2 separate regions of the Homo sapiens genome follow, and region 1 is linked to region 2. The links come from fine-mapping of genetic effects on gene expression. A gene starts in region 2. The other region holds a variant in brackets. All regions are shown on one strand. Distances are from middle to middle. Region 1 has its middle 25 kb from the start of PTGER4. Region 2 holds the start of CARD6 (caspase recruitment domain family member 6).

What was found.
Region 1: its variant is fine-mapped to the expression of CARD6 in whole blood (TOPMed, PIP 0.95).

The regions. Positions count from the first base shown.
Region 1 is chr5:40,703,561-40,706,365 of GRCh38, forward strand. It overlaps a transcript of PTGER4 not described here. Among named protein-coding and RNA genes, the nearest start is that of PTGER4, 25 kb to the left of the region's middle. The variant A/T (reference allele first, on the strand shown) is at 1,411.
Region 2 is chr5:40,839,988-40,842,792 of GRCh38, forward strand. It overlaps CARD6 (caspase recruitment domain family member 6), which reads left to right and starts at 1,380. Exons shown (of 3, transcript NM_032587.4): 1 at 1,380-1,678. The coding sequence starts at 1,396.

The sequences.
Region 1 (2,805 bases), 140 kb before region 2:
ATACAAAGAAGAGCTGGTACCATCCCTACAGGAACTATTCTAAAAAATTTAGGAGGAAGAGGCCGGGCACGGTGTGGCTCACGCCTGTAATCCCAGCACTTTGGGAGGCCGAGGTGGACAGATCACAAGGTCAAGAGATCAAGACCATTCTGGCCAACATGGTGAAACCCCATCTCTGTTAAAAGTATAAAAATTAGCTGGGCATGGTGGCAGATGCCTGTAGTCTCAGCTACTCAGGGGGCTGAGGCAGGAGAATTGCTTGAACCCGGGAAGCGGAGGTTGCAGTGAGCTGAGATCACACCATTGCACTCCAGCCCGGGCAACAGAGCAAGACGCCGTCTCAAAAAAAAAAAAAAAAAAAAAAAAAAAAAAAAAAAAAAAAAAAAAATTTAGGAGGAAGGACTTCTCCCCAACTCATTCTATGAGGCCATCATCAGCTTAATACCAAAACCTGGCAGAGACACAACAAAAAAAGAAAACTTCAGGCCAATCAATATCCTTGATGAACATTAATGCAAATATTCTCAACAAAATACCTACAAACCAAATCCAGCAGCAAATCAAAAAGCTAATCCACTATGATCAAGTAGGCTTCACCCTCAGGATGCAAGGTTGGTTCAACATATGAAAATCAATAAACGTGATTCATCACATACAGAACTAAAGACAAAAACCACATGATTATCTCAATAAATGTAGAAAGACTTTTGATAAAATTCAACATCCCTTCATGTTAAAAACTCTCAATAAACTAGGTATTGAAGGAACAAAGCTCAAAATAGTAAGAGCCATCTATGACAAACCCACAGACAACATTAGACCAAATGGGCAAAAGCTGGAAGCATTCCCCTCGAAAACTGGCTCAAGACAAGGATGCCCTCTCTCACCACTTTTATTCAACATAGTATTGGAAGTCCAGGCCAGAGCAATCAGGCAATAAAAAGAAATAAAGGGCATCCAAATAGGAAGAGAGGAAATCAAACTATCTCTGTTTGCAGATTCTATACCTAGAAAACCCCATAGTCTCAGACCAAACACTCCTTCAACTGATAAACAACTTCAGCAAAGTTGCAGGATACAAAATCATTATACAAAAATCACTAGTATTCCTATACACCAACAACAACCAAACTGAGAGCCAAATCAGAAAAGCAATCCCATTCACAATAGCTGCAAAAATAAAATATCCAGGAATACAGCTAACCAGGGATGTGAATGGTCTCTACAATGAGAATTACAAAACACTGCTCAAAGAAATCAGAGAAGACACAAGCAAATAGAAAAACATCTCATGCTCATGGATAGGAAGAATCAATATCATTAAAATGGCTATACTACCCAAAGCAATTTACAGATTCAATGCTATTCCTATCAAACTACCAATGGCATTCTTCACATAACTAGAAAAAA[A/T]TTTTTTTTAATTTATATGGAACCAAAAAAGAGCCCAAATAGCCAAGGCAATCCTAAGCAAAAAGAACAAAGCTGGAGGAATCACATTACTCGACTTCAAACCATACTATGAGGCTACGGTGACCAAAACAACATGGTGCTGGTACAAAAACAGGCACATAGAACAATGGAACAAAGTAGACAGCCCAGAAATAAGGCCACACATCTATGAGCACCTGATCTTTGACAAAGCTGAAAAAAAGAAGCAATGGGGAAAAGACTTCATATTCTATAAATGGTACTGGGATAACCAGCTAGCCATATGCAGAAGATTGAAGCTGGACCCCGTCCTTACACCATATACAAAAATCAACTCAAGAAGTATTAAAGAGTTACATGTAAAACTCAAAACTATAAATACCCTGGAAGACAATCTAGGCAATACCATCCTGGACCTAGGAATGGGCAAAGATTTCATGACAAAGACACCAAAAGCAATTCCAACAAAAGCAAAAATTGACAAATGGGATCTAATTAAACTTAAGAGCTTCTGCACAGCAAAAGAAACTACCAACAGAGTAAATAGACAACCTAAAGAATGGGAGAAAACATTTGCAAACTGTGCATCTGACGAAGGTCTAATATCCAGCATCTATAAGGAACTTAAACAAATTTACAAGAGAAAAACAAACAACCCCATTAAAACATGGGCAAAGGACATGAACAGACACTTTTCAAAAGAAGACATAAATGCAACCAAAAAGCATATAAAAAAAGCTCAATATCACTGATCATTAGAGAAATGCAAATCAAAACCATGAGATACCATCTCACACTAGTCAGAATGGCTATTATAAGAAAGTCAAAAAATAACAGATGCTAGCTGGCAAGGTTGTGTAGAAAGGGGAACCCTATACACTGTTGGTGGGAGTGTAAATTAGTTCAACCATTGTGGAAAGCAGTATGGTGATTCCTCAAAGAACTAAAAGCAGAACTACCATCCAATCCAGCAATCCCTTTACTGGGTGCCTTTACCCAGAGGAATATAAAGCATTCTACCATAAAAACACATGCATGCAAACGTTCATTGCACACTGTTTACAATAGCAAAGACTTGGAATCAACCTAAAGGCACATCAATGACAGACTGGCTAAAGAAAATATGGTACATATACATCATGGAGTATTAAGCATCCACGAAAGAGAATGAGATCATGTCTTTCATGGGAACACGGATGGAGCTGGAGGCTATCATCCATAGCAAACTAACACAGGAACAGAAAACCAAATACTACATGTTCTCACTTATAAGTGGGAGCTAAATAATAAGAATTTATGAACACAATGAAGGAAACAGCAGACAATGGGGTCTACCTGAGTGGGGAGGGTGGCAGGGGGGAGAAGAGCAGAAAAGAT
Region 2 (2,805 bases):
TGTTCTGCTTTTATTTACATATTAGCTATTTACCTTTAACAATATAGTAGCCCTGATAGGCCCAACTCCTACATTGTAGGACATCCATGATCTCCTCCCCAATCCCATCCCATCCCCAAGCTCCCCATATGCGAGGTAACCATCATTCTGAATTTCATATTTATCATTCTTTGCTTTTTGTTTTGTATAATTTTAATGACTTCATGTATACTCTTAAATGTAAGGGTGTGTTTATTTTCAACTTTTAAAAAGGTTGTCATACTGTATATAATCTTTTGGGATTTACAGTTTTTCCTTACTATTGTTATGATTTCTCTATATTGTGGGTCACTGAAGTTCATTCTTTTTGAATGCCATGTAATATTATGTTATAAGAAATATCACAGTTTATTCATCCAGTATCCTGTTGCTAGTTATGCAGATCGCTTTCAGGTTCTTGTGAACTATGAAGGAGTAAATAAAGACCAACCAGGTAATTTTCTTAAAATAAATAATAATAAAAAACCAAAAATGTAAAATATTAAATAGTAATGTTTAAAGTGGAAGTATAAATCTCCCTGTAGTCATATTCTCAGAGATAACCAGTGTTAAAATTTGGGATATCTCTTGTCTTCTTTAAAATATAATGCATATCTGCATATACATATTATATACATATACTATATACACATTAAGTTTTTTAAAACAAAAATGAGATCTATAACTTGCTGTTTCCATAGCAATATATCATGGATATCATTACTTGTCAATATGTAGAGATGTACTTTATCCTTTTTAACAGTTCTTTGGTGTTTCACTGTCGACATGTCAATATTTATTCCCTAAACCCCAACTTTGGTTATTTTCAATTTTGTACTGTTGTAAACAATGTTGTAATGCAGATTCTTGTACATACATCTTCGGGCATTTGCTCAATTATTTCCTTAAGATAATTTCCTAGAACTGGAATTGCTGGGTTGAAGGATATGAAGTTTTATTTTTGTCTGTCTTCAACTTTATTTATTTATTGCTGTATATTGCCATATTGCCCACCAAATATCAATTAATAATTTACATTCTTGGCATCATAGTATAGTTCTCTGAGCAGGGAATACCTAGTCCAACCTGAAGTTCAAGAGCGACTTCTTGGAGGAGGTGACCCTGGGTCTGAGTCATGGTGAGAATTTATCAAGACTTCAAAAGAGCAGATAAATAATCCACAAGGACCCCGGATCAGAGAGTGCTCCGAGCTGGGTTGCCCCACTGTGCTTGTATCTGCACTCTCCAACACTAGGCATCATTGACATGTTAAAGCTTAGCCAAATAGAATTGTTCTTTGTCATTCTTTTTTTAACTTTTACTTATTCATTAGGATGATTTCATAATATATTTCCTGGTTTAGAGGAAACAGGAACAATGGCTACCGAGAGTACTCCCTCAGAGATCATAGAAAGAGAAAGAAAAAAGTTGCTTGAAATCCTTCAACATGATCCTGATTCTATCTTAGACACGTTAACTTCTCGGAGGCTGATTTCTGAGGAAGAGTATGAGACTCTGGAGAATGTTACAGATCTCCTGAAGAAAAGTCGGAAGCTGTTAATTTTGGTACAGAAAAAGGGAGAGGCGACCTGTCAGCATTTTCTCAAGTGTTTATTTAGTACTTTTCCACAGTCAGCTGCCATTTGCGGCTTAAGGCATGGTAAGTTGACTTTGTATACTTTTTGGGGTGAGAGGAAGGGGGCAGACTTTCTGAAAAAGAAAACAAAATGAAAGAAAATTGTTGCCTTTTATTTTTGTTAGTCTTTTTCTGGAGATAATTTTCATTGAAATATGAAATAGGGAAAAACTGGAATTTAAAAAGTTTCTGAAATTTAACATCTTATTGGTCTACTGAATCGATAATTTGTTTTTCAGACTGTACTCAAAACTTGAAGTTGTTTTAGTGCTAACAAACTGCTCATTATTCTGGCAGTAACATGCTAAAATCTCACAGTTGGAAGGAAAATACTTTAATAATAACACAATCCAGGGTTTGTTTTTCAAGTAGATGAATTCGTGGATATTTACAGTGCCAAGACCACAAGCTGTATCTTTCACTTAGTATAGCCGTTTTGAAAATACAAGGAAAATAATTTTTAACACATAGATGGCAAATCAGTAGTTTCATTTTTTTGGTGATAAGAATGCCAGCAGCAGCTGTTTTCTGGAGCAATTCCAGTGCTAATTCTTAAATGGTTCAAAGATAACTAGTAGTCCATGAAAAAGCAATTCTTCCAGTTATTTAGCAATTCTGTAAATTACTACTAGGACTAGGTCTAGCTCTTTTTCTAGGAATCTAAAAAAAAATTCAAAATTATTTTAAGGGATGTTAGAGAGGTAGAGGCTCAGATAAAAAGGTGAATGTTAGTGATACCTAATTTAGGACAAGATTTATATGCTTAGAAATTTTTCTTTTATTATTTCTAAAGCACACTATTCCAAATAGAGCCATTTGCTTACTGATTAGAAATTATTTGTGATCAGATTTCATTAGCAATGACCCCAAGAGACGTGAGTCTGTTGTGAGTCACAGTAAGTCCACAAGTAAACACTGTTCATATGATTCAAATTTTTCGTTTTATTCACTTACCCTGTAAGGTTGCTAGGAAGGACTCAAACTTTAAGCAAGACAGTGGTGTGATCTGATTTTTTTTTTTAGTGGAAAAAAGAAAGTTCTGAAAGTTGACATGTTGACATGCAAGTTATATAGGAGGTGTTAGGTATTCCTGTCCTCCAGTGAAATAAGAGGTGGCTGGGCGCTGTGGCTCACACCTGTAATCCCAGCAC